Homo sapiens: one gene and its partners. The protein of the gene in region 2 purifies or fractionates together with the protein of the main gene of each other region. This does not show direct contact. Each region holds a gene or a part of one and is shown on either strand. Other genes may lie near its edges. The genes, in order: STXBP4, CUEDC1, SPIN1, TXLNG, CCDC102A, HECW2 and TRMT61B.

The links.
Region 1: the proteins of CUEDC1 (region 2) and STXBP4 purify together in Homo sapiens (co-immunoprecipitation; 2 studies listed by BioGRID and IntAct, with this or other methods). This does not show direct contact.
Region 3: the proteins of CUEDC1 (region 2) and SPIN1 purify together in Homo sapiens (affinity purification with mass spectrometry; one large-scale study listed by BioGRID and IntAct). This does not show direct contact.
Region 4: the proteins of CUEDC1 (region 2) and TXLNG purify together in Homo sapiens (affinity purification with mass spectrometry; one large-scale study listed by BioGRID and IntAct). This does not show direct contact.
Region 5: the proteins of CUEDC1 (region 2) and CCDC102A purify together in Homo sapiens (co-immunoprecipitation; one large-scale study listed by IntAct). This does not show direct contact.
Region 6: the proteins of CUEDC1 (region 2) and HECW2 purify together in Homo sapiens (co-immunoprecipitation; 2 studies listed by BioGRID and IntAct, with this or other methods). This does not show direct contact.
Region 7: the proteins of CUEDC1 (region 2) and TRMT61B purify together in Homo sapiens (co-immunoprecipitation; one large-scale study listed by IntAct). This does not show direct contact.

What each region holds. Positions count from the first base shown.
Region 1 is NC_000017.11:54,974,944-54,978,939, forward strand, and holds part of STXBP4 (syntaxin-binding protein 4), read left to right. Parts: intron 1-3,996. UniProt on the Homo sapiens protein: Plays a role in the translocation of transport vesicles from the cytoplasm to the plasma membrane. Inhibits the translocation of SLC2A4 from intracellular vesicles to the plasma membrane by STX4A binding and preventing the interaction between STX4A and VAMP2.
Region 2 is NC_000017.11:57,948,713-57,952,708, forward strand, and holds part of CUEDC1 (CUE domain-containing protein 1), read right to left. Parts: intron 1-3,996.
Region 3 is NC_000009.12:88,475,100-88,479,346, reverse strand, and holds the end of SPIN1 (spindlin-1), read right to left. Parts: coding exon 4,070-4,247; 3' UTR 653-4,069; downstream 1-652. UniProt on the Homo sapiens protein: Chromatin reader that specifically recognizes and binds histone H3 both trimethylated at 'Lys-4' and 'Lys-9' (H3K4me3K9me3) and is involved in piRNA-mediated retrotransposon silencing during spermatogenesis.
Region 4 is NC_000023.11:16,792,582-16,796,577, forward strand, and holds part of TXLNG (gamma-taxilin), read left to right. Parts: intron 1-3,996. UniProt on the Homo sapiens protein: May be involved in intracellular vesicle traffic. Inhibits ATF4-mediated transcription, possibly by dimerizing with ATF4 to form inactive dimers that cannot bind DNA. May be involved in regulating bone mass density through an ATF4-dependent pathway.
Region 5 is NC_000016.10:57,516,003-57,519,998, reverse strand, and holds part of CCDC102A (coiled-coil domain-containing protein 102A), read left to right. Parts: intron 1-1,257; coding exon 1,258-1,374; intron 1,375-1,721; coding exon 1,722-1,931; intron 1,932-3,535; coding exon 3,536-3,706; intron 3,707-3,996.
Region 6 is NC_000002.12:196,222,785-196,226,780, reverse strand, and holds part of HECW2 (E3 ubiquitin-protein ligase HECW2), read left to right. Parts: intron 1-910; coding exon 911-1,009; intron 1,010-3,996. UniProt on the Homo sapiens protein: E3 ubiquitin-protein ligase that mediates ubiquitination of TP73. Acts to stabilize TP73 and enhance activation of transcription by TP73. Involved in the regulation of mitotic metaphase/anaphase transition.
Region 7 is NC_000002.12:28,849,086-28,853,570, reverse strand, and holds the end of TRMT61B (tRNA (adenine(58)-N(1))-methyltransferase, mitochondrial precursor), read left to right. Parts: intron 1-1,071; coding exon 1,072-1,163; intron 1,164-2,272; coding exon 2,273-2,499; intron 2,500-2,960; exon of another isoform or gene 2,961-3,165; coding exon 3,166-3,243; exon of another isoform or gene 3,244-3,328; coding exon 3,329-3,372; 3' UTR 3,373-3,629; coding exon of another isoform or gene 3,630-3,721; 3' UTR 3,722-3,750; downstream 3,751-4,485. Other genes in the region: SPDYA (speedy protein A), read right to left, coding at 3,630-3,721.

The DNA of each region.
Region 1 (3,996 bases), 3.0 Mb from region 2:
CCATGGAAAGGGGTGGTAAGATCTGTATGTTGCCATGGCGATAGTAAACTGATGTGGCACACTGGTGGCCATGTCTTCTGGAAAGGCTTCTATCCAGGAACTTTTTAGCTGATCCTCAGGTTCGTTCCAAGTCCTGATTCCTACCCCACTTAGATAAGCCCTGTGTTTGTTTAATGCTCTACTGTCAGCATCTTGAAATTATTTTTTGTTTTTGAGACGGAGTCTCACTCTGTCACCCAGGCTGGAGTGCAATGGCATGATCTCGGCTCACTGCAACCTCTGCCTCCCAGGTTCAAGTGATCTTCCTGCCTCAGCCTCCTGAGTAGTAGCTGGGATTACAGGCGCATACCACCATGCCCTGCTAAAAATTCTTAATAATTATTTAACATGGGGCCTTGCATTTTCATTTTGTATTGGGCCCTGCAATTTATGCAGCCAGTCCTGGTCAAGATGTAAATAGATATAAATATAGATAGAGATGCAGATACAGATATAGGCACAATATTATATCTCAAATGCACTGACAGACAGTCTCACATGATTCAGGCCAAAGCACAGTCTAATTACGTGATTTAATTATGTGATTAAAGGCAAAGGCAGAAAACTAGGGAAAGTACAAAAGTGGAGAGCCTTTAGAGCCTTTACTTTTAACCTTTAGAAGGTTAAAGGTAAGAGATAAAGGGAAAGGCAAATTCAGGTCTCCTGAGAATAGTCAGGTTAAGTGAAATATGATCAAAACTCCAAACTTGCTACCATAGCCCATAAGACCCTAGGAAATCCAGACCCTGCCTACTTCTCTAACCTTATCTCCTACCACTCTCTCCCTGTTCACCACACTCCAGTTGCACTTCTTTCTTTTCTTTAAACACCTCAAGTTTGTTTTACTGCCCTCAGACCTTTTCTCTGCCTGGAATGCTTTGTCCCTCAGCTTTTTTCACAGATGACTTATTATTTGGATCTTAGCTGGGACACCCTCCCCAGTCTAAATTAGCCCTTCTCTCCTTAGTCACATTTGCTATCACCTTTCAATATCTGAAATCTAGTTCATTTAATTGTATCTTTTTTTTATTGTTTTTCTCCCACCACTAGAATGTAAATACCAAAAGAGCAATGATCTTGACTTGTTCACCATAATATCACATGCCCTTAGTGTTGTACCTGCACATAATTGTACTGAGTTAAAAATTTGGTGGATGAATGCATGAATGAAAGCAAACAGAAGGCAGTCCGGTAGCCTAAGGAAACTTCTGAGAGCAGTGAGCTGTTGTGCTGATGAAGACTCCTTTCAAGAAGACTAAGACTTTCTTTGAAGTAGTTTTCTGATGTTTCCCACTGAGTTGGGCTGTGTGTTACAGGCAGATGCTTATGCATCCTGAAATAGGACCAATTGTCCCATAGAACTGATATTAATCATTTCTTTGAATAAGCACAGAAATTGATTCTCCCATTGTTAAAACTTGAGAAAGTTAAATTTGTCTTATCTGAGTTACTTTCTCAGGAAACCAACCATCAGGCCTCCCAGATACTATCAAGAAACTGAAACTTACCAGATCATTGCATCTGGACAATATGATACCAGACCCTTCAGCCATCATGACTGCCTTACCCAGGGGTACCCAGTCCTTAGGCTGCAGACTAGTAGCCGTCCATGGCCTGTTAGGAACCCGGCCAGACGGCAGGAGGTGAGTGGAGGGCAAGTGGGCATTACCACCTGAGCTCTACCTCCTGTCAGATCAGTGGCAGCATTAGATTCTCCCAGGAGTGAGAACCCTATTATGAATTAGGCATATGAGTGGTCTAGGTTGCATGCTCCTTATGAGAATCTAATGCCTGATGATCTAAGGTGGAACAGTTTCATCTGGAAACCATCCCCCACACCCCCATGCGTGGAAAAATTGTCTTCCACAAAACTGGTCCCTGGTACCAAAAAGGTTGGGGACTGCTGGCCTAACCAATCACTTGCTACCTGTTGACCAACTCCTCTTCCTTACCCCTCCCTAATTCCTGTTTTCCCACACATACTTACATTTTTTCCCTGCCATATAAGCCCCTAATTTTAGCTCGTCAGGGAGAGGGATACAAATTTCCCATCTCCTTGGCTGCGGCACCCAGTTAAAGCCTTCTTCCCTGGCAATACTCCTTTCAGTGATTGGTTTTCTGTGTAGTGAGCAACAGGACCTAAACCGAACCCCTGGCATTTTGGTAACACCCCCAAGACAAATGAGTAGCATTTCTGAACTCGTTAGATTCTTGAAAGAAAAAAACATGCACTAGTAAACAGAATATTGCCTTTGGGTACAGAATAAAAGATAATAAAATACAGTTGGCCATCAGTATCCGCAGGTTCCACATACACAGGTTCAACCAATCACAGATTGAAAATGAACATTAGGCCTACAATGGCTGTGTCTTTACTGAACATGTACACACTTTTTCTTGTCATCATGCCCTAAATAATATAGCATAACATATTTACATTGTGTTTTGTATTATAAGTAATCTAGGGATGATTTAAAATATAGGAGAGGATATGCATAGGTTATGTGCAAATACTACACCATTTTATATCAGGGACTTGAATATCTTCTAATTTTGGTATCTGCAGTGTCCTGGAACAAGTTCCCTGAAAATACTGAGGGATGACTATAACTCTTTGATCTTTTATATATTGGTTTCCTGAAACTTTCATGTCATTTAAAAATGATCAGTTAAGTTTAGCCCAGGGAAAATAGTCATTCCTGATTTTGCCAATTTTCTTAAACAACCTTAGGATTATATAAATAGCTGATGTTATCTTGAGGAATCTCTGCTGTGATAAGGTATAAAACAAGTTACCAGTTTCTAAATGCTGTCATTTTTGTGTCTCCTCAAGTATAATACATCCAACTTTATAGGAAGAAATATTTACATTTTTAATATTAGCTTTAGTGAATAAATAAATAGTAGGCATTTCTAACTTGTCAGTCCACAGAAACCAGACAGATTATTTACTGAGCAGCCAACATCATTGTGCCCTCTTCCTCTTTTGAAATGACCTTAATGTGAAATGTCACTACACTAGTACACTTTTCCCTCCACTCTAATCCCTCCCAAATGACCAACTGCAGCCTACCCCATCCCATTCATGGGTCATACTGATCTTAGAGGTGGACGTATATTTTAAAAAGAAAATCGTTCCCTCAAAAAACATTGGGAGACTTGTAGTTTAATAAGCCTGCCATAAAATTTTTGATTTGTAGAGCCAAGAAAGAACCTTTAAAGATCATTTTATGAATGATTTTGACATCGTACATATGAAGACTAGGGAGCAGAGTAAGTGGCTGCTCAAAGTCATATGTCTAGTGGGCATCTACCCTCTGGACTGGTACTCTTCCCAATGCAATAAAAAAAACATGAAATATATGTACTATGTAATATGTACTATGAGCTTCTTTGCTATGAGTCATCTTTCTTTTTAAATTATAGCAGAAAATAAGTGTATTTATTTCTACTGCCTGTCAATTTGCTTACAAAGGAGTTGTCATAAGAAGTTATTTAAAGGATGTAGCTGAATTTCTTTGTGAAACACCAGATCTATGTTATTTTCTCTTTTAAATTGCAACATTTGTTGATACCTTAGCAAATGAAGATGAAAGAAGAAAATAACATAAAGGGTAAAATGACATTAAAGGAGACATAATTAGAAAGAGCTGATATTTAGATGCCAAGAAGGTACACTGGAACATGGTAACTTTTTTGATATTTTTCCTTCTTTATCCAAATAATATATCAAAGTATATATCCTTGTTGTAAGCCATTCAAAAAATAAAGAATAACTTAAAGAAGGAAATAAAAATAACAGTAAATAAAAATAGTAGTTCCAAGTGTCAGTTATTGTTTACATTTTATATTTTTAATAAATGTAATTTTAAAAGATGAAATTATTCTACACATTCTGTTTTTACCTTGCTGTTGTTTTTTACCTAGACCATTTTTGATGATTACATAGTATTGTTT
Region 2 (3,996 bases):
TCCCCTCTGTGCCTATGAGTCACTTTTCTTACATCTCACATCCTATCTGGAATGTCTTCCTCATACCTTACTTGAATCCTCCCTCTGTAGTTTAAATTCATTTGCCTCTGGTTCTAAGTGCAGAGAGACAAGAGTGAATCACTGTGTTCTGAGCAATGACTCTTAAGGGACTTTTATGTCTTCTTCACCATGTTCACTGCAGGCATTACAAGAGGTGGCAGTGTTTCTCAGCTGTTAAAAACCACAAAGGCATCAGGAAAGCTGACCACACTGCCCAGTTCCTGCCTCACCCTGGCAAGGGTGCTACAGAATCCAGAAAACCTGACCCTTCTCTGAAACCCACACCGCTACTTAGCTCTACTCAGAGTTCACCAAGGGGGAGAACAATGTGCTCCCATGCCAGATCAAAAGCCCAGGAGGCAGCAGCCACTTTATCTTGTCCTCACTCAGCTCAAGCGGCCCCTCCTCCAGGAAGCCTTCCCTGCCCCAACTCCTCTTCTGGCTGGCAAAGTGCCCCCTTCCTCAGTGCTTTGTCTTATCGCAGCACTTGCCACAGAAACTGAAATTCCAGGCTAACATGTTTGTCTCCCTTACTAGACAGGAGGCATCTTGAAGGCAGGGGCCATGGCTTGATGACCTTTGTGCTCCAGGATGGGCCCCAGCAGAGTATCTGGCACTTGGCCAGTGGTTCTCAGCAGACTCTGTTAAGCTGAACCCTCCAGGCATGTTCCAACGATGCCTGGACATTGCACTGGCAGCCCTTCAAGCAGGACACAAATCCCACAACCCCCCCAGCTCCACCCTCCCCCACCACGACCACCCCCGAGCTCAGTAGGGGTGTCTCTGACATACTTTTTTTTTTTTTTTTTTTTTTTTTTGAGGTAGGGTCTTGCTCTGACACCCAGGCTGGAGTGCAGTGGTGCAATTTCAGCTCACTGCAACCTCGGCCTCCCAGGCTCAAGCGATCCTCCCACCTACGCCTCCTGAGTAGCTGGGACTACAGATACATGCCACCACGCCTAGCTAATTTTTGTAGAGATGAGGTTTCACCATGTTGCCCAGGCTGGTTTAGAACTCTTGAGCTCAAGTGATCTGCCAACCTCAGTCTCTCAAAGTGCTAGGATTACAGGCATGAACTACCACACCCAGCCCTGACAGTTTCTCTAAGGGTGTGGGCCTGCAGCCAGACTTCCTGAATTCAAATCCTGGCTCTGCCACTTTCTAGCCATGTGATCTTGGGCAAGTTATTTAAACTCTTGATGTCTCTTATGTCTCTATTTCTTCACCTGAAAAATTGGTATAATATCTCATAGGTCCTGTGAAGATTCAACGAGCTAATCCATGTGAAGTACTTGGAAAGGGTCCGACCCCTCTGTGAGTGCTGCAATGATTATTTCCCAAGCCTATCCCTTCACAGAAACCCTTGGCCCCCACAGCTTCCACTCTTTTCGTTTTTGAGACAGAGTCTCACTCTGTCACCCAGGCTGGAGTGTAGTGGCGCGATCTCGGCTCACTGCAACTTCTGCCTCCTGGGTTCAAGCGATTCTCCTGCCTCAGCTTCCCAAGTAGCTGGGACTACAGGCGCCTGCCGCCAAACCTGGATAATTTTTTTGTACTTTAGTAGAGACGGGGGTTTCACCATGTTGCCCAGGTTGGTCTTCAACTCCTGAGCTCAGGCAATCTGCCTGCCTCAGCCTGCTAAAGTGCTAGGATTACAGATATGAGCCACCGTGTCCAGCCTCTTTTTTATTTTTTTATTTATTTATTTTTTTTTTTTTGAGACAGAGTCTCGCTCTGTCGCCCAGGCTGGAGTGTAACGCTGTGATCTCTGCTCACTGAAACCTCCGCCTCCTGGGTTCAAGCTATTCTCCTGCCTCAGCCTCCTGGGTAGCTGAGATTACAGGCGCCCACCACCATGCCCGGCTAATTTTTGTATTTTTAGTAGAGACAGGGTTTCACCACGTTGGCCAGGCTGGTCTCGAACTCCTGACCTCAGGTGATCCGCCCGCCTCGGCCTCCCAAAGTGCTGGGATTACAGGCGTGAGCCACTGCACCCTGTGAGCTTGCACTCTTGACTGCCTATTGGGCCTGCCCCGATCTCCTGACTAGGTTCCCTTCCTCCAGGGAACTCTGCCCTGTTCCTCTGGACCAATGTTAGTATTAACTTTATGCCATTCAACCCTTCTCACTGGTTATGCCTCCTCACCCCTCCCCCAGCTTACAGGGCAAATTCTCCAAAGAAAAGGAAAAAGAGTTGGTTCCACAGCAGGGCTACAGATGCTGAGTCATTCTGCCCCCAAATATGCTTAGCTGTCACCCATGACATTTCAGTCTCCCCACCCCCGCCTCCACTGTGCGGTCCTCTCTGCTCATCATTCAAGAGCCTCACCCCACCCCCTCCCACTCTTCCAAAATCCACCCTCAGCCTCTACAGTTTTTACCAAAGATTTTCCTTAATAATGAGCCTCAGAATTTGTGTACCGCTGTGCAGAAATGGCAATAATAATAATAGCTTCGATGTAATGAACACTTCCTCTTTGTCTGGCATACACATGAGATCTCTTTTAACTCTTTCTAAATATAGGAAACTCTGGCACTTACAAAGTCTTAGAGTAAGATGGAGAGCTGGGATTCTACCTGGAGATGCCTAACTTCAGATCTTACACTCTAAACAACTAAGCTATGATGAAAATGTGCACAAAATAACTCAGTTGCTTCCTGGGGGTGGAAGTTAAGCCAGTGGAGTTGGAACTTTTTTTTTTTTGAGACAGAGTCTCACTCTGTTGTCCAGGCTAGAGTCCAGTGGTGCAATCTCAGCTCACTGCAACCTCCGCCTCCCGAGTTCAAATGATTCTCCTGCCTCAGCCTCCCAAGTAGCTGGGGTTACAAGTACGCACCACCATGCCCGGCTAATTTTTTGTATTTTTAGTAGAGATAGGTTTCACCATGTTGGCCAGGCTGGTCTCGAACTCCTGACCTCAGGTGATCCACCCGCCTCAGCCTCCCAAAGTGCTGGGATTACAGGCAGGAGCCACCACGCCCAGCCTAAACATTTTTATCTTACCAAGAATTCCTCAAAGACCCTTGGTGCTGCCACAATGCAAATGAAATGGTCACATTTATAAGAAGGGAGTTTATATTTACAAGGACTGTTATCACATTTATCATTTATGACCTGCTTTAAAGATAAGACATTTAGCTGCATCATCAAGAGTCTGTGATAATGCGCTGACACATCAGAGGTTCTGGGAGCCTGGAAGCCAAGGGGATCAGAGAAACACTGAGTGAGCCAACACAGCTAGCATCCTGAACTCACCAACCCATGGTAGCCAGGGCCACAGCATGACTGAGAAGTCATGGCCACTGGGGAAGGTGAATCCTCAGTCACTGCAACAAGGACTTTGCATGCCACCAAGACACTTTCAATTCCCAAGTCAAGGACCACTGGACCACAGCGCTTTAGGGTCTCCAATGCCCTTCATTTTATTTTATTTTATTTTATTTTATTTATTTATTTATGTTTTTTTTTTGGAGACAAAGTTTTGCTCTTGTCATCCAGGTTGGAGTGCAATGGCACAACTTCGGCTCACTGCAACCTCCACCTCCCAGGTTCAAGCAATTCTCCTGCCTCAGTCTCCTGAGTAGCTGGGATTACAGGCACACGCCACCACACCCAGCAAATTTTTGTATTTTTAGTAGAGACGGGGTTTCACCATGTTGGCCAGACTAGTCTTAAACTCCTGACCTCAGGTGATCCACCCCCCTCGGCCTCCCAGAGTGGTGGGATTACAGGCATGAGCCACCGCATCCGGCCTCCAATGCCCTTTATAGCTCTTGCTTCCTGTAAGTGCAAGAGCCAGCAACACAGAAGCACCACCTCCTCCAGCTCACCTTGGATAGTCAGAGGTGACCCCTGTCAGACACCCAGCTTCCTGTGCCCCAAGGCTCTAGAATACTCCTGCCTCTGCTGCTTATTACCAGAGCAAATGTAGGAAG
Region 3 (4,247 bases), on a different chromosome or scaffold from region 2:
GTAAATATCCCAGACTTAAGCATGAGATCCTTAGGCCAAAATGAACTGGGAAACATTAAAAAAAAAAATCTTATTAAAGCATGCCATAAATTCCACTTTTTACCTCACTGATTAAAATAATCAAGAAAGATAAAACATACATAGGTGTTAATATTAGGTTGGTGAAAAAGTAATTGCATTTTTTGCCATAAAAGCAGTGGCAAAACTGCTATTACTTTGCACCAGCCTATATTACTTTCATTTTTTTGTATCCTAGCATTGAGAAATAGTGATTTTTCACTATAGAATCCCATTGTTTATTATTTATGAGTAAAAGCATTATAAGAAATATTCAAAGCAAGAATACTTGTGAAAAGTATAAAATACCCATTATTTAATTATATTTAAAAGAATTTTTTTAAGTTTAAGATCTTGTAAGTTAAACTTTCTCAATGTCAAATTGCAAACTTCAATATTTAATATATGTGTGATATTGATGACTGCCTCCTCTTCTTTCAGGTATTATTGAATGTTATCAAATAAAAATTCTATTTCTTTCTATGCATATCTGACATTTACATGTGGTGAAAAGGTTACTTGGCCCAAAAAACTTTTCAGAATCAAGTTTAACACATCACATGTTGCTCATCAGCACAAACTTTACAGTCAGGAGTTGCACATAAAGGGTTTATTTTAAATGTTTTAAGGATAAGATAGAGTTACATCATAATTATAAAAATTACTTACAGAATTAACAGATTTATATTGTGTATACTTCTAAATGCAGAGAACAGGGAACTGTCTACACATTGTATAAAATAAAATTAAAATTAAAAATGAATTCAAGCTTGAAAGATGAGGTCATTTACCTAATTTTAAAATGTGAACACGAAGACCTCTGACCTATACACATTCATTCCAACTGCACTAATGATGGAAAAACACAAAGAGCGCAGCATTTCCAAGGAACCACAGACATTTCAACCATAATTATTTTGTTATAATAATTGTTCTGTTTTGTCTTTGGAGAACTTTCATTTTGTTAAGACAATCAGCTTAAGAGTGTTTTCAGGCACTACAATTTGTAACAATCGGAACAGTCTTCTAATGGGTCTACAGTGTTCAGAGATTGAAGCCCAATGCACTTCGTGGTTTGGCACATAAAACAATAAAAGAAATGAAATCTGGTTTAGAAGTAACTGTGATTTTTTTTTAAGAAAACACAGTCCCTTCAAATGCTGCATGACATTTACAACTGGAAAATCACCTTCTGTTGGCACTACATTTGCTTCACCAGTGCATTTTTATCCTAAAACCACTAAAACGGCACAGTAAGCAAATATACAGGAAACTGAAAACAAATAAAAATAAAGAAAACAAAAAAACCTAAATATCTTTAACATGCAATTTTAGTCAGTTACATTGAACATTCTACTTAGAATAGAGCATGCAAAAAAGGATGGTCTGCTTTTAAGATTTTTCTCTGAAGTTTTACGTGGCAGCCTGACATCACACACGCACGCACACACAATACAATAATACTAGAGCAGGTAAATGAGAAAGGCCGATAAATTTTATACATAGATTCATGTCTTGTATTGTCACAAGTCCCATGATACTTTTGGAAATTAATGTTGAATTCCTGGAACAAGGAACCAACATTCAGATACCAGAAAAATGCAAGCAATGCATGCAGATCTGACACATGAGCCTAAAATGAAGCCCAAGATACAAGGGCTTGGGAGCAGAATTAGTCATAGCGTCATTACATGTGGTGTAAGTCACCAAAAGAAAGACAGAATGGGGGAAAATGGGGAGAAAAAAAAACAAACCTTCCCTTTCCCTCAGCCCTAAAGGCAATAAATGAACAATGATTAAACTCATCGTCATCATCACCATCATCATGTTGCATTCATCTAGAAACTGGGAGACCATGTGGTATAAAAAAAGTCATTAAAGTTGCTTGCAGAAAAACCACAATGCAAGTCATTAAGTAATGCTAGAAATGTCTCAATTGACCCAACCCTCAAGATACTTCAAAATGTACTTTATTTTTCCACGCAAAGTTACCGAGCCAAGTTCTGCACAGTTGGTGCATGCTGGACACACTTGCAAACTCTTGCGCTGTAATGTCAGTCTGGACTCTGGGAGCCAGGCTCAGCTTTGAGATTTACATGCAGGGACTCTTAAGAGTCAACAGGAAAACACATAACAGATCTGTAGAATGACACCTGTTCACATACGAGAAGCACCTATGACTTGGGTATCACACTGCTTTCAGAAGCTTGTCCCTGGCTGCCCACAGTGAAGCACGAGGGACAGAGCGACTGCAGCTGTGGACAGAAAACTGAGGTACTGTGTTTACATGGTGAGTGGTCGTTACCATCCAACAGCACAAGGCACAAAAAATGGGCATCAAGCAAACCATGCATAACGAGGCCTGGAAACCATCAAGAACAGCCACAAAAGAGGTCACTCAGACCTCTGATTCAAACTTCTGGTGTTTGAGTGACAAGCATGCACGTTTAGGCTCTGCCCAAATATCAGGGAGGATTTCCAATCTCCACAAGAGACTGGTTTCACATATGGCCTTTCTCCTGGCTGTCAAACCACCAGGGTTCCTCCAAAACAAAATGAGAGCAGCTGTTTTGCTGATCAACCAATCACACTAGCAGTTCTATTTCAGTTTAAAACAACCTTGCAGGAATAAACCACATAAAGACTCCGTGGCTAAGGGCTGCTATTACTTACACCTACCAAGCGAACACAAACGGCTGGCTCTTCTATGGTAACGCTTCACTGGCATGCAAACCCCAAGGGGCCACTGAATGGAATGAATCCACATGAACAGCATACCTGGAGCAGGAACATGCACCCCACAAGAGGTGTCAGGAGACTAAGCTGCTGTTTGTCTAGACATTCTTTGTGAGGAAAAGCCAGGGGTAGGCAGGAAGGGGTGGGTTGAAAGTCTCTGACCATAATCATACATTAGCAATAATAGTAATAAAACTTTAAAAGTCCCAGAGAGCTTGTTAGAAGGCAACAATGCCACTCAAAACTTATACTTCCAATATAAAAGCATTGTATTCTTCCAGAAACTTAACCAAAAACACACAAACCAGTGATGGATTGTTGCCTTTTAAATCCATGTACTGAAATCCAGATTACTGACTTGTACACAATGGACCATATGTGCTGTCCAAAATACACCTACATTACACTGTGTGGAACAAGAACCTGGGCTTTGCAAAAAAGAATTTATGATTAAAATGTAACCCCCCCCCAAAAAAAAATGAAGCTTAGAATTAAAGGTAGCCTTTTACCCAGATTGTTCACCAGATTGTAAAATTCTAATATGGGTCATTAACTGTTCACAAATAATTCATATTTGGACTTATGGTTTAAGGGCTCCAGATTGAAAAGGTGCTCTGAACTTCTGATTTTTTTTTTTTAAACAAGCTGAATGTTCCCATATGGTTCCTGTGCCCAAAGTTTACTTTTAAATAAAGAGCAGTGATATCATATCCATGACTGACTTGGGTAAAGCACTCCTGTTAAACTCAAGAAAATTATGTCACCCCCATCCTAATCCACAAAGACTGCCAGTGGGGTGTGTGTGGTGTGTGGTGTGTGTGTGTACACTTGTATCTGTGTGTATATATTATATATGTATACACACATATAGATATAGGTAGATACAGATACATACATCTCAAAAAAGGCAATAACGAAAACATCAAACTATGCTTGCATTGTGGCGGCAGAATAAGAGAGTTAGGGTGAGGGGGAAAATGGTTAAGATCTATTACAATTTTAAATGACTATGATACTAGCTTAACTTTTACCAAACTTGCCTGTAACTCCCCTCGAAATAGACAGACTTCTTTTAAAAGAAAGGGGTTCTCCTTACACAAAATGCTTTGTGTTCACATCAATCTGTACTATTCAGAACAAAACCAGTTCTGCTGGCAGAGATTGTGGGTTCGCAGGGACATTTAAGCTTTCATTAAACTGGAAAGCAATCAAGTCTTTATGTCTACAAATAATACATTTCATAGTTCCACAAATTTGGCAGAGTTTGTGATGACATCTAGGATGTTTTCACCAAATCGTAGACATAAATATGGAAATCATCATCAAACTTGATGAAATAGACGGAGGGCTTGGCTTCTACTTGATGAATGACCATGCCAGTCCTTTTCGAGCCATCTTCTTTGGCATATTCCACTTGTTTGCCTACCAGGCTGTCCACAACTTCTCCTGGTTCC
Region 4 (3,996 bases), on a different chromosome or scaffold from region 2:
ACCCGCTTGGGCAACACAGGGAGACCCCGTCTCTATGAAGAATAAAAAACTTAGCTAGGCACATTGGTATGTGCCTGTAGTTCCAGCTACTTGGGAGGCTGAGGTGGAAGGATCACTTGAGTCCAGGAGGTCAAGGTTGCAGTGAGCCACGATTGGGCCACTGCTCTAGCCTGGGCAAGAGAGTGAGATCCTGTCTCTAAAAAATAATAATAATAATAAAAATAAAAAGTATAGGCCAGGCACAGTGGCTCATGCCTGTAATCCCAGCACTTTGGAAGGCCGAGGCAGGTGGATCACCTGAGGTCAGGAGTTCAAGACCAGCCTGGTCAACATGGTAAAACCCCATCTCTACTAAAAATACAAAAATTAGCTGGGCATGGTGATGCATGCCTGTAATCCCAGCTACTCGGGAGGCTGAGGCAGGAGAATCACTTGAACTTGGGAGGCGGATGTTGCTGTGAGCCAAGATCGTGCCATTATACTCCAGCCTGGGTGACATAGAGGGAGACTCCGTGTCAAAAAAAAAAAAAAGTATACAATAATATACAAATTTAATATCATATTCATCAACATTGAGATGGGACATTTCTAGAAGAGGGTAGAAATAGGTAAGGTGACCTTTAAGATCCATTAAGACCCTGGGAGTACATTTTTATGTTTGAATCTACCTCCTAGTTGAAATTCTGTTGGCACTTATAAATACTTACATTTTATTACTTGAAGGAAAAGATACATAAAATAACTGGTGTTTTCCTCCTATGCTATCAAAATAATTGTATTAGCATTTATTGCTTAGGGTGTTGATTTGCATTCTGTGTTGCATTTCCAAAACGTCCCTAGAATGACCTCTGTTATCTCCTACTTCCCACCTTATAGTCTGTCCTGAGTAATATTTACTGGCTACTTTTTTTTTTTTTCATGTTTCTTCTTTCCCTACTCTCAAGGTAGTAGAATGGTTTGGCAAGAAAGATGTGCCAGTAGCTTAGAAACTCATTTCTTTATGGGTCTTTTGGATTGCAAAATGGGCCATATTAAAAGTGAGAATGAATGCATTTTGTAAAATATCTTTTTTTTTTTTCTTTTTTTTTGAGACAGGATCTCCCTGTGTTGCCCAGGCTGGAGTGTAGTTAACGCTTATTGCAGCCTTGAACTCCTGGTCTCAAGTGATCTTCCTGCCTCAGCCTTCCTAGTAGCTAGGACTACAGGTGTGTGTGCCACCATGTCTGGCTGTTTTTTTTCTTTTTTTTGAGAGACAGGGTCTTCCTATGTTGCGCAGGCTGGTCTTAAACTCTTAGGCTCAAGCATGATTCTCCTGCCTTGGCCTCCCAAACTGCTGGGATTACAGGCGTGAGCCACTGCACGCAGCCTGTAAAATGTCTTCATTCAAATATTATAACAGTTCTGCTATGTGTCAGCAGTTTATATCTATCAGCAATTTATACCTATTATATCTACTTATGGCGCTAAGAAGGTAAGTACTGTACATCCCAGTTTACAGATAAGGAAACTGACAGGTTGGCCTCCCTATGGCCACACAGGAGATGCTAAGTGGTATATTCAGAGTTTCGGCTCTTTGGGCTCCAAAGCCATTGTCCATATTTCGTATCTCTCATGTTAACATTTCCTCAGATAGTAAAGGTCACATAAGTGCCCCTAGTTGAAAGTGAGCAAAACATGCTGGTAGATAAAATAGTAATAGTAATAGTTTTTGCTAAACGAAGACAAATTATGAGGGATGGAGTTGGATGATTAGGGGATATCGAAAATTGATTGTAATTTGGGGACCAGAGGAGTTTTGAGCCTCTTAATATCTTTTGCTTCATTCACCTAGGCCCTAGGTTAACCTTGAGATTTATGATTTAGGAGGTATGCCATGCTACAACTTCCTGCAACAGTACCTCCAAGTGTAATTTGAATAAATTGAAAGGTAGAGAGTTTAGAGAGACTCTCTTTAACTTCTTGTAAATAAAGTTCATATAACCTGGTGTTAGCAAAGAGTTGAAGTGGTCTGGGGAAGTAAGACAAATAAAAAGAAGGCTTGATGTTTCAGAGGTGTATCAGGATTGGTCCATATGGATCTAGGGAAGGATGACTTCATAAAATTGGGACAGGGATGTTCACTTAGGTAACCCATAAAAGTAAAGGACCATTTTACATCTAAGAGTCTGTGGCTTAAAGATGCTAGTTGTGTGACCCAGCCCCTGTCCTGTAAATAGATCAGGTCCAAGTATATTTCAGTGGCTTTGGGCATTAAAATCTTTGAATGTCCTGCTCTTTTGCTGCTGAAATAGGTACTTACACTAATACAAGTATCTTTCAGATTGCAGATATTCATTGAGTTACAGTTTTAGAACTAGAAGTGATTTTGCAAATCATGGAATCCAGCATCCTTTATTTATATAAAAGAATAATTTAGCTGGGCGCGGTGGCTCACACCTGTAATCCCAGCACTTTGGGAGGCAGAGGCAGGCGGATCACGAGGTCAGGAGATCGAGACCATCCTGGCTAAGATGGTGAAACCCCATCTCTACTAAAAATACAAAAAATTAGCCAGGCGTGGTGGTGGGCGCCTGTAGTCCCAGCTACTCGGGAGGCTGAGGCAGGAGAATGGTGTGAACCTGGGAGGCGGAGCTTGCAGCGAGCCGAGATTGCGCCACTGCACTCCAGCCTGGGCGACAGAGCGAGACACTGTCTCAAAAAAAAATAAAAATAATAATTTATTTTTATAAAAGAAATAGCCACAGAAGTTAAATGCAAAATTTAATGCAGTCATTAACATTCACTTATTAAAAGGCAAATGATGTACACAGTCTAATATAGATGTTACCAGTAAATGTACAATATTAGCACTTATACTGCTAGGTTATGAGACTAAAGAAGCTGTGTCCAAAGTAGACCTTTCCCGGATCCTTTTACTCATTCTTGGTTTCTTCCCCAGTGGGGGAGATCAGGTTCCCTCATCCCTTAGTTTAGCACTAGTCTGCCTCTCTTTTCTTGTCATTTACCTACTAATGGTTCTGTGTGTTCTTTGTGCTCTTACATGCTGTGACAGTTACTCTGGATCCTTTAGCTGCCTGCTCCCAGGTAGTAGTTAGGACAACTCCTAGAACTTACCCTGCCTCCAATTTATGATCCCTCCTTAGAACTCCATCATTTCTCTGGCTTCATTTATTTAGTAATTTGTTTGGGTAACATGCCATACAGTTTGCCCATTTATAGTGTATAATTCAATTTTTTTTTTTTTTTTTGAGTCGGAGTTTCACTCTTGTTGCCCAAGCTGGAGTGCAGTGGTGCGATCTCGGCTCACTGCAACCTCTGCCTCCCGGGTTCAAACAGTTCTCCAGCCTCAGTCTCCCGAGTAGCTGGGATTACAGGTATGCGCCACCGTGCCCGGCTAATTTTTTGTATTTTTAGTAGAAACGGGGTTTCATCATGTTAGCCAAGATGGTCTTGAACTCCTGACCTCAGGTGATCCACCCACCTCAGCCTCCCAAAGTGCTGGCATTACAGGCATGAGCCACTGTGCCCGGCCTCACTTTTTTTTAGTATATATTCAGAGTTGTGTGACCGTCACTACACTTGTTCATTTTTATTATTTTTTATTAGAGACAGAGTTTTGCCATGTTGTCCAGGCTGGTCTCAAACTCCTGGGCTCGAGGGATCCTCCAGCCTTGGCCTCTCAAGGTGCTGGGATTACAGGCATGAGCCACTGTGCCCGGCCGCACTTGTTTATTTTTAACATAACCTGGGAAGAGCATGCTCTTTAGAGAGTATGCCCTTTACAGAGAAAGACAAGGATTCAGTCTCTGCTTTCCTTTCCTAGGTTCCTGACCGTGGACATCGTACTTAAATTACCTTATCACTGAGGCTGCTTGTTTATCATACCTGCCTATAAGATAGTTCTGAGAATTAAATGAGGAAGTAGTCTATTAAATACTGTTACAGAGGCTTCTGAATGAGCCAGAGCAATGAAGGTCAAGGGAAAGTGTTTATACC
Region 5 (3,996 bases), on a different chromosome or scaffold from region 2:
CTCAGAGCAGGCTGAGCTGCCACTACGGCCTCCTGTGCAGGCCTCAATGGCCACCAGAGGGCGCAGCCACCCAGGGAACGCCACACTGGATCGGTGGGTTTCTAGCAGCTGGGAGGATCACAGAACTTTAGAGCCTGAAACTGTCCTGGAGGGGACCAAGACTGGTCTTACATGAGAATCTCTGAGGAAATCTCCTAAAATACAGATTCCCAGACCTCGCCTCCACCCTCCTGAATCAGCACCTTTCAGGGCTGGGTCCAGGACCCTGTTCTTTTAGTCTTTTCAAATTATGAAGTATAATCATTCGAAGAAAAGCGAATGAAACACAAATGTACAATTTAGTAGAAAATTATAAAGGTTCTCTTTTGTATCTGGTGTCTCTCCCTCAACATTATGTGTTGAAAACTCATCCGTGTGTTACAGGGAGCAGCAGTTTGTTGGGGTTTGCTGTATACCGCAAGAAATGTTATTGTCTTAAATGCACGCCAAGCAATGCCGATGCACCTGTGTGCAGAGCAGTGTTGGAATTAGTCACTGTACACTGAGGGCGGCCCTGTGCCCAGGCCATACAACGACACAAAGGTGGACAGACGCACAAGCTCCCCGTCCTCCCAGGCTAGCTTTCCAGTGGGGAGTGGGATGAGGAGGCCCCTCCTCCAGGCCAGGTGGGCAGAAGAGGCATTCCTAAGGAGGGGGCCTTTAGGTCAAGGCCTGAGAATAAGAAAAATCAGTCCTAAGAAGTGTCTCAGAAAGATCCACGCATGTGCAAAGGCCCTGTGGTGGGCAGGAACTTGGTGTGTCTGAGGAACAGAAAGGAGTCCCTGGTGCCTGGAGTACAGTGAACTAAGGGGGAGCGGCGGGTAGGTGTCCAATCGTGCAGGGCTTTGTGAGAGCGTAGAGAGGAGTTGGACTTTACCCTAAGGCACCTGGGAGCCATCAGAGGCTTTGTGGGAGGAGGGTGGTATGATTGCATTCATCTTTGTTAAAAGCTCCCTCTGGGCTGCTGTTGTAGAAAACGGGTTGACAGAGAAGGGCCAGGAGTAGACACTGGGAGGCTAGACAGTAATGAGGAGGAGAGACATTGGGAGGAGCAGAAGTGGTCAGATTCGAGGTCTGTTTGGAATACCTGGTGCCTGCCCCATTTGGGCGCTGCCTTGGCTCCACGCTGAGCACTCCTGCACTGGCGCCCACCCCCGGAGGTGGTTCCAGGCTATATCCTGGTGGTTCTCATGACCAGGTGGGGCCTTATCCCTGCAGCTCAGCATCCTGAAGGAGGCGCACCAGGACGAGCTGGGCCGCATGTCTGAGGACCTGGAAGATGAGCTCGGTGCACGCTCCAGCATGGACCGGAAAATGGCCGAGCTGAGGGGCGAGGTGAGGCCATGGATGGGACCCAGGAGGACCTGGGTTTAGGGGTCCTGGGGCCCTGCTCCATCAGCAGGTCACTGGGAACAGGGCAGGGGCCAGGACTGTGCTCTGAGCGGGGCCAGCCACATCCAATGGTGTCCTGATCTGCAAGAGGCAGGCCTCTCTCCCACACAGAGGCCAGAAGCGCCCTCACATCCTGTACACCATGAAATGAGCCCAGCTTAATTACAGCCAATGCAGCTGGATCTGCTTCCTGGAGCCAAAAATGGCTCCAGGAGGTGGCGGGGGCATCCAGCTCAGGCCCTGCATGCCCCCTCCGCTGGGAGTCCTCACTCTGCCCTGCCCTGCTGCAGATGGAGCGGCTGCAGGCCGAAAACGCTGCGGAGTGGGGCCGCCGGGAGCGGCTGGAGACAGAGAAACTGGGCCTTGAGCGGGAGAACAAGAAGCTGCGGGCACAGGTCGGAGACCTGGAGGAGGCGCTGGCCCGGCGGCGGCGGCAAACAGCCAGCGCACTGGACTGCGACCTGAGGGCCAGCCAGGCCGCGCTCTTCGAGAAGAACAAGGTGGGGCAAGGAGTGGAGTGGCCAGTGCTGGGGCTGCCACCTCCCCATCCAGCCAGAGCGCAGCTTCCCTACTATGTGTCAGGCCTGGTGATAATTATGGTAGCTGCATGTATTCAGCACCTTGTGTGCTAGACCAGTTGGTAATTATAGTAGCCGCATTCATTGAGCACTTACTATGTGCCAAGCTCCACTCTAGGTGCCAGAGACACAGCACTGAACAGACAGATGTGGCCTCCCCTCTTCCCCTCATGGAGCTGAAGACTTACTTGGGGGATGTACACATGGCTCTCTCTGTCACACAGATTCATGCCAATCACACAGCTTCATGGTCACCAGCAAGAAGAGGGGATACTAGGAGACCTGGCTTAGGCCCACGGTCCTGGAAATACCTCCCGGAGGCAGTGACATTTTAAACTGAGTTCTCAGCCAGGCGCAGTGGCACACATCTGTAATCTCAGCACTTTGGGAGGCTGGGGTGGGCAGATCACCTGAGGTCAGCATTTTGGGACCAGCCTGGCTAACATGGCGAAACCCCATATCTACTAAAAATACAAAAATTAGCCGAGCATTGTGGGCACCTGTAATCCCAGCTACTCGGGTGGCTGAGGCAGGAGAATCACTTGAAACCGGGAGGCAGAGGTTGCACTGAGCTGAGATTGCACCACTGCACCCCAGCCTGGGTGACAGAGAAACTCCGTCTCAAAAAAATAATAATAAATAAATAAACTGAGTTCTCCAGGAAAAGCAGCCGTTAACTGGTAGTGTGCGGATTTAGGGGAGGGGATGGAGAGAAGTTAGGAATAACATGAATAAATGTCCGTGGTGAAAGAGACACAGAGCTTTGGAGGAACAAGTCCAGTGTGCTGGAGGGGAGTGAGCGGGGGGATGTGGTAAGTGAGGCACGAGTGGTGGGACTCTTCGAGAGAGTTTAAAGCAGGAGGGGAGTGTGAGCAGGCTGTGTGGGCAGAGGATGGGAAGACAGGCTGGGGGGAAGCTGTTGACATTCCCTGGACAACAAGAGAGGGAGGAGACCTGGACCAGGTTGCAGTCAGTAGAGATGGAACAAAAAGGATGGACTCAAGAGACCTTTAGGCAATGCCTATTCCCATTTTACAGAAATGGAAACTGAGGCTTAGAGAACTCACAGAGCTCCAGGGTGGGCATCTCTTTTGCTGGCTGCCCTTCCTCTTCCCAGCCACTCTGGGCTCTGAGACACCCACCCATTCCCCAGCCTAGCTCATTCCCAACCCAGCTCTTTCAATGCCATACGCCCCTGAAGACTCCAGACCTCATCCTTCCCCGGAAACCCCGACCCTGCTCCAACAGCTCCAGGGTAGATCCAGTAGCATCTGAAAGTTACACATCCAAACCGGAGCCACAGGTTCCACCCACCCAGCCTTCTCACCTCCCTGGAAGGCACCTCCAGCCTCTGGCTGCTCAGCCAAACCTCTACTGCTGATACTTCAGACAACAGATGGAGAGATTCTGGGAAGGAGAGACACCCAGCATCCCTAGAACTGCCTGACCTCGTGGGACTCCCTGGCATGGCGCCCAAGCTGATACTGATTCCCTCCTCCCTCCCACCCCATCCCTGTGCCCTGTAGGAGCTGGCAGACCTGAAGCATGTGCATGGCAAGCTGAAGAAGCAGTTCCAGGAGAAGGTGGCAGAGCTGGCACATGCCAACCGGCGGGTGGAGCAGCACGAGGCTGAGGTGAAGAAGCTGCGGCTGCGGGTGGAGGAGCTCAAGAAGGAGCTGGCCCAGGCTGAGGACGAGGTGAGGACCACAGAGGGGCAGGGGCAGCAACAGACCTTGGCCAGGGAGGAGTGGGGGCCGCAGGGCCATCCTGGCTTCTCCATTCTCAGCCCCTGGTGCCTGGCACAAGCCTGTCTCTCAGGAGTCGCCCAGGATAGAGTGGGTAGGTGCGTGATGAATGGATGGCAGGATGGACATGTGGGTGGGAAGATGGGAAGAAAAATGAACAGAAGACAAGATGGATGTGTGCATGGATGAACCAATGGGTAAAGGAATGAATGGATGGATGAATGGGAGAGAGAGGCAGGGCG
Region 6 (3,996 bases), on a different chromosome or scaffold from region 2:
GTCTTGAGAGAGAATAGGGATAGGAACTTTCTTGATCTGAGACTGGGCCTTTCCTCAGAAAGGAATTGCTACTGAGTTTGTATTGAGAAATTCTGCTAATATTCATGCATACACACTAGGAGGGAATAGCATTTTCCCCACCTCCAGAGGTCTCATCTGTCAACATCTCTTAGAAGTGGTTTGGGGAAATGTCACTGAAATGCTCACAGGGGATTCATGAATGTGGGGTGCTACATTGTTGATATGCAGTGAAGGTGGAGCAGGGTCTCTAAATATGAGTGAAACTGATTCTTCAACAAGTAGGTATGAATTACTGGCTGTTTTAGCCCATTCTTGCATTGCTATAAAGAAATACCTGAGACTGGTAATTTATAAAGAAAAGAAGTTTAATTGGCTCATGATTCTGCAGGCTGTACAGGAAGCATAGCACCCAAATCACTGGGCTTTGGGGATGGTCTCAGGGAGCTTTTTCAATCATGGTGGAAGGCAAAGGGGAAGCAGGCACATCATATGACAAAAGCAGGAGGGAGAGAGAGAGAGAGTGTGTGTGTGTGTTGGAGGGAGGTGCCACACTTTTATATGACCAGATTTCATGAGAACTCACTATCATGAAGATAGCACCAAGCCATAAGGGATCAGCCTCCATGATCCAAACACCTCCCACCAGGCCCCACCCCCAGCAATGGGGATTGCAATTCAACATGACATTTGGGCAGGGACAAGTATACAAACTGTACCACTGGCCTGATGAAGACACAGCCCATGGTGCCTACAAATTCTCACTACCTAGTAGGCAATTAATATTGGAAAAATTTAGATGGTTAGCGCTGGAAGGCATTCTAGAAAGCATATGGAACCACCTAGAAACTGCTCCATGACATGTAAGCCATCTCATGTGTTTCCTTCACAGGTTCCGATTCAGTGGTAGGATCCTTGGTCTTGCACTAATACACCAGTATTTGTTGGATGCCTTCTTCACACGGCCCTTTTATAAGGCTCTTCTCAGAATGTAAGAATATTTTTATTGCCTGCATAATTAGCATGTAAAATGCAGTATTTACTTTTTTGAAAAAATTCTTCTGTCAAAGTCATTGTTTATCTGTTCACAATCTCAAATTTGTTGTTATTAAACCTAATAGTGGTTTAGATTTCTGAAACTAATGCAATTTCAAATATGATTACTGTGTTTTTCCTGCCTCTGACCTATTTAGCCCCCAGATTTTTAGTTTTGCTCTACCCCCCAAAATTTATTCTCATTTGTTGCAGCATGTGTTTCTTTAAAACAATTGTACTTCAAACACAGCCCTGGGATTCCTGTGGTATTAATGCAGATTATTAATAGAATTGTTGTGGGTTAGTCTTAGTGACTCACAGCCCCCCTCTCCTTTATGAGACACATTTTATATTTGGCTTGATGCATATTTTCAAATGCTTACTCCTCGTTCAAATCTTCATTTTCCTTTGTTTTGGTTTTGTTTTTTATTTGTTTGTCAAGGGTGGACAGTGCCATATGTTTCTTAAACTTTCTCTATGCCCTTAGTAATTTATTATGGAAAATGAAAATTCAGCATTCACAGAACTTTTTCTTCATTGTTAATGAAAGATTGCAGTTATTGTAAAATGTAGGGCTAATTGTTTCTGTCCTATAATCAGCAGCCATTTACAAGGCTGAACAGAAGACAACTGTCTGTGGGATAGTAGCTCAAATTTGCGATGAGAATGCACTGAATTATCACTTGGCTCTGTCCAGCTCATACCCTAACTGAGGCCACGCACTTGCTTACTGTAAAATGGAAGCCTAGACCTCAAATGAAAGCAAACAAAATGCTTCTTGTGGGCCCTTGGGAGGGTCAGTAGAAAGACTTTTGCCTTCTTCTCTTTCAGTGTCTTCACAGCTGTAGCACTGGGGAACAGGTGCCGTTTTCTGTCTCTTTGGTTCTTTGTGGCCCACTTTGCATCTTCCCATTTCATTGCCTTATCTCTTATCTTCTCATTTAAGCTTCCTGAAAAACTAGTCTATACTGACTGTCTACACTTACCTCAAATTCACACCCTAAGCACACTTCAGCCTGGTTTCTTTCCCACCAGAAAACCTGTGGAGGCATTTAAAGAATACTGATTAGTCCGTATCTTATTGGATCATGCTGCTGCTTCTGACACTGTGCACCACCCACACCCGCCACCATTTATTCCTGTGTCTTTCCTTCAGAGCTGGCATCTATGACACTGTACTTTGCGGGTTCTTTTTTTTAACTTTTCTGTCCCTTCATGAGTCCCTCTTCTGATTTGCCCTTAAGTCTTGGTGTACCTGAAGCTTCTATCACCAGGCCCCTCGTTTTCTCACTCAGTGTGCTCTCATGGGGGAATTTCTTCTCCTGTCTTATCTCCTCTGACTCCCAAATCTGTACTCTCAGTCATGATCTCCCTTAAGGTGTAGCCTCACATGGTCAACAGTCCACCAAATATCTCCACTCGGATGTCTTACAAGGATCTCAGAATCAACATGGTTAAGACTAAGCTCATCAAGTTTCCCTACGTAAAAGTATACCTTCTCCCATATGCCCAGTTACAGTTAATAGTGCCACTATTCTCAGGCCACTCTGGTCAGAAATTGGGAGTCACCCTTAAACAGCGATGACAAATACACACGGTACATGTTCTACTCTTCCCCATCTCTACTCTACCCCATCATTCCCAGGGTAGAGTTCACAAATCACCTGTGGTACTTTTTCCCACTGAACTCACTGTGGCCTCAGAAATCTTTTTAACTTATAGTGCTCAAGCCCAGCAATTAATTACAGTTAGTTTTGACATGAGTTCGTTTGTCACCCCTGTTTTAGATATCCTTCTTTATACTCCCCCAATAAAACCATTTCCTGATTGCTACATGTTTGCCTCCTAAATGATTTTCAAATTCATCTTCTTCTCTCCAACCTTAATAGCACAGCCCTAGTTAGAGCCCTTATCTTATTTTGGCCATATTACTGTAGTGGTCTATTCATTGGTCTCTACCCTCTAATGATAACCACCCCTCATCCCACCCCATTTTAAATAATCCTTCACACTGGGACTTCCAGAGGAGCTGTTTATAATTCACATTTCACGTCTGATCATGTCATGCCCTGTCTTAAAATCTTTTGGTAGTTCTGAATCACCAATCTCCTTAGGATGATATTAAGGCCTGCTCCCTTGCTGGCCTCATTCTCTAGAAATTCTGTCTTAAGGTTAACTCTCTCAAACTGCTGATATGCTTGGAGTTTCCTGTACACATCCATGCCTTGTATTTTGTTCATGTTATTCTCTCTTTCTCCTTTCTCTTTCCCCTTCTCCTCCTTCATGTATTCCTTTTTACGTCTCTTGCTTTTAAACATCCTGAAAGATTTAATGTAGGCATCATCTTCTGCAAAAAGCTTTTCCTGAATCTCTCAGTCAAAGAAAAGGCCCCTCATGTGTGCTCTGACACCTAAATCCCTATCCCTACCTTATCTTTTCTTAAATTGAAGTGTGACATAGATTTTAAAAGTACATGAATTTTAAGTGTTACCAATCTTATGTTATCACTTATCGCTTTATATTAACTTATCTGTTTGTGTACTTGGCTCCCCAACTAGCCCATTAGCTCCTGGGGGTAGTGACTATTCATCAAGTAGCTATTCAGATGTCTGGTACATGCTTGATGCCTAATGAATGTTCAGATTGAACTGAAAAAAAATGACCCTTAAAATTGGGTTAAGGGGAGTGAAATTTCAAAACAGCTATAGCAAATCAATGACTACCACTGTACAACTGGGCCATGGAACAGTAACTTACCTCATGTCGATTCTTTCTCTACAATTAAAAAAAGTGGGGGAAAAATACAGATTGACGGCAGGTTCTGTGGCTTACTATTTTCAGAATAAGAACCATGAAGAAAAAGGGAATGTATGTGAAGATGAATCATGTCTTTAATAAAAAATAAAATAAAATAAATATTAAAATAAAAATCATGTCTTTCAA
Region 7 (4,485 bases), on a different chromosome or scaffold from region 2:
GCCACTGCCTCTGGCCAACAATGTGAATTTCTGTTGCCAAAGCTGAAATAAAGCATTTAAATTTATAAGTTTTGGCAATAGAAATTCACATTGTCAGCCAGGTGCAGCGGTTCACATCTGTAATCCCAGCATTTTGGGAGGCCGAGGCGGGCAGATCGCTTGAATCCAGGAGTTCAAGACCAGCCTGGGCAACATGGCAAAACCTGTATCTACATAATATACAAAAAGTTAGCTGAGAATGGTGGCGCCTGCCTGTAGTCTCAGCTACTCGAGAGGCTGAGGTGGGAGGGTTGCTTGAGTTCAGGAGGTGGAAGTTGCAGCGAGGTGACATTGTGCCACTGTACTCCAGCCTGGTCAACAGAGCGAGACCCTGTCTCAAAAAAAAAAAAAGGAAATTCACATTGTCTCAAATGTTTAAATTTTTCATGTTGTAATGGCGTGTTTTACACTTGGCAATATTGATAATACAGGCATACAGGAATCTTTCTTTGGTTATATTCATATATACATACATAGCCAAATCAATATTTCCATATTAATATGCAAAGTACAAGACATATCATTATGATTTTTCAGTATCATCAAGTACTATGACAAATTGTTTTTTCTTCCCTGAGACAGGATCTCACTCTTGCCCAGGGTGGAGTATGATGGCACAGTCATAGGTCACTACAGCCTCGAACTCCTAGGCTCCAGTGACCCTCCCACCTCAGCTTCCTGAATAGCTGGTACTACGGGCTTGTGCCACTGCATCCAGCTACTTTTTTTTTTTTTCAATAGAGTCAGAGTCTCGCTATGTTGCCTGGGCTGTTCTCAAACTCGGCCTCAAATGGATCCTCTTGCCTCAGCCTCCCAAAGTGTTGGGATTACAGGCAGAAGCCACATTGCCCAACTGTATAATAATTAACATACCCTTTTGGGAGTGGTAAAATGATAGTTAATAATACTACCTTCTAAAAAATGAAATACTTTGATTGCTGTCCAAAAGTGTGTCATTTCACCACAATAAGAAAACTTATGCTTTATTTAAACGGAATCAGACTGATCCAGTTCTCTTTTTCCCCCACACAGGTAGCTTTGGATATGTTAAATCCTCATGTTACTTTGCCTGTTTTTTACCCACATCTTAAGCATGGTGGTGTATGTGCTGTATATGTAGTAAAGTGAGTAATATAACTGTTTTTCTTTGTAATGTAACTTTTAAGTGCACTTTTGCTTAAGTATCAAACTAAATTTTTTTTTTTTTTTTTTTTTTTTTGAGACAGAAAAAAACTCTGTCACCCAGGTTGGAGTGTAGTGGTATGATCTCAGCTCACTGCAACCTCCACCTCCCCTGTTCAAGCAATTATCCTGCCTCAGCCTCCCAAGTAGCTGGGGTTACAGGCGCCCGCCACCACGCCCGGCTGATTTTTTCTATTTTTGGTAGAGAAGGGGTTTCACCATGTTGGCCAGGCTGGTCTTGAACTCCTGACTTCAGGTGATCTGCTCACCTGGTCTCCCAAGGTGCTGGGCTTACAGGCTTGAGCCACCACGCCCAGCCAAAATATTCATTTTGTAACTGAATAAAGTGTATATGGCATCTTATACAACTGTTTTAAAATGACAAGTCCCAAGTTCATTTATATTACTGTATATTTATTTAGTGTTTTTTTTTTTTAAACTTTTTTCGTTTTTTTTTTTTTTTTTTTTTTTGAGACAGAGTCTCGCTTTGTCACCCAGGCTGGGGTGCAGTGTCATGATCTCAGCTCGCTGCAACCTCCGCCTCCTGGGTTCAAGTGATTCTCCTGCCTCAGCCTCCTGAGTAGCTGGGATTACAGGTATGCGCCACCACACCCGGCTAATTTTTGTATTTTAGTGGAGACAGGGTTTCACCATGTTGGCCAGGCTGGTCTGGAACTCCTGACCTCAAGTGATCTGCCCCCCTCAGCCTCCCAAAGTGCTGGGATTACAGGCGTGACCCACGCCCAACCCTATATTACTGTTTAAATCATTTTTTACATAAATAGTAATATAAGATGCATATTTTCTTCTGACAATCTGGAAGAAATGTTTTAAAAGTATAATGTGAACAGTAATGTTAAATTATGGTCTCTGTGTTTGTTTACTTAGAATTTTGTGAAGGTACTTTTTATGCCTCCTAACTTGCATATTTAAACCCTCTCCTGCCTTAATTTAACTATGGTATTTAAATGTGGGCAAGAGGTATAGGGAACTTAAATAAATATAATGTTATTATTTTAGTAGAAATGTAAATTTTTCACTTTTCTGAAAGCATCACACAGGTTATTGAACTTTTAGATGGAATTCGCACCTGTGAACTTGCTCTTTCATGTGAAAAGATAAGCGAGGTCATTGTCAGAGATTGGTTGGTTTGCCTTGCAAAACAGAAAAATGGAATTTTAGCTCAAAAAGTAGAATCTAAAATCAACACAGATGTACAACTAGATTCTCAAGAGAAAATTGGAGTTAAAGGTGAGCTGTTTCAAGAGGATGACCATGGTGAGCTTCAGTTTTACTTTATGCATGCAGTAATGAATGGAGAATGAGTTCCTGAGTATACTGACCAATAGATTATAAAAATATTCCTCAGCAATTTTCTATAGAAAAGTGTGATATTTATTCTGTTAAGATGTATAAGGCACAGAATAATGACTTTTCCTGCCTTTTACTTAAAACTCTGATACCTTTGAAGAATTGAGCTTTTTATAATATTCATATTTTACTTGTCACAAGGAGCTTGGTTTGTGAAATAATTTAAATGTATTAAGGATGTTTTATATTTAGATCACTGATTATTAATGGGACCTGATAGGCAAATAGCTAATATTCCAAAAAGCAACTTCTAAGATGCTGCTGGAATTCTTGAAAGAACTGAGTTTAGGTCTTTGTCATATATACACATTATTTAGGCCATGAACAAGTTTTCAAGTATCAGTTGATTTATGATATAGGCTTATCCATTTGGTTATAAAATCATATGTTTATTACATAATCATTGACAAATAGTTTCTGTATAATAACTGGCAGAGTAGCTCTAAAACATATGCAAGGAAATAAATAAAGAAAAAACTTACAATAAAGAGAGTAACTCATATTTTAACAGTTTTGTGAAAAAAATAGAAAATATTTTATGTAGCTTATAGTACATATATTTTTTTACAACAGAAGAATCGCATTCTGATTTTCCATATGGATCATTTCCCTATGTTGCTAGACCAGTACACTGGCAACCTGGTCATACAGGTGAGTAATGTTTTCAGAACATATTAAATGGTGTTTTTTCTTTTAATTAATATAATGACTTTATGTTTTTCTTCTCTTAAATTAGCTTTTCTTGTCAAGTTGAGGAAGGTCAAACCACAACTTAACTGAGTACTCCAGATGACAGTAACTGACTTGAAGATGGAAAAATATCAAAATAGAACTTTATATTGAAAATCACTGCTTCCATAGATTGGCATTTTTAGCTATTACTATGACTTATATAACTTATACATATAATTTTGAAAATAACAACTAAAAGATGTATAACATAGCAAAACTGCTTAAACATCCCATTTTGACACTTGTCTTGCAGTTAGTTTGACATTTTGTAGTTAATGATTCCAAATTGGTTTAGTTGGGCCATCTCATTCTTCACTTCCTGTAAACCACTCCATAGATTTGTCTTTCTTCAAGAAATTAGTTTTCTTTCCTTTATTTGATTGATGGTCATTGACTACTGAAATAAAATATGCATTTTAAGATAAATTTTATGTATCTGTCCATTTTAAATACATCTTATAATGGCTTGTATATGTCTTAAAAAATAATAAGGAAATCTGGGCTACAGTAAATAATGGGGGGAAACTTAAGAATGATATAATCACCTTAAAAATTGTAACAAAAGATGTAACAGGCTCTTGAATCTCTTTTATCCCCTCAGAATCTTTTTAACCAGCTTGAAAGAACATTAGAATTATTCAGTGTTACTACACAAATTAAATGTTTGGGGGCTGGGCACAGTGGCTCACGCCTTTGGGAGGCCAAGGCAGGCAGATCACCTGAGGTCAGGAGTTCGAGACTAGTCTGGCCAACATGGCAAAACCTTGTCTCTACTAAAAATACAAAAATTAGCTGGTTGTGGTGGCGGGCACCTGTAATCCCAGCTACTTGGGAAGCTGAGGCAGGAGAATCGCTTAAACCTGGAAGGCGAAGGTTGCAGTGAGCTGCGACTGTGCCACTGCACTCCAGCCTGGGTGACAGGGCGAGACTCCATCTTAAAAAAAAAATGTTTGGGGAATACATTTTGGAAACATGAATTAATTACAAATGGGACTTATTATTCATAGGCACCAGTTATTTAGCACTTACCACATACCATACATTGTTTTGAAAACTTTATATATGTTTTTCACTTACTATGGACAACTTATCTTTCAGGTTATCCATATTTTACAGATAAACAGTGACTTAGAATGATTAGGTCTCTGTTTAAATATAGAT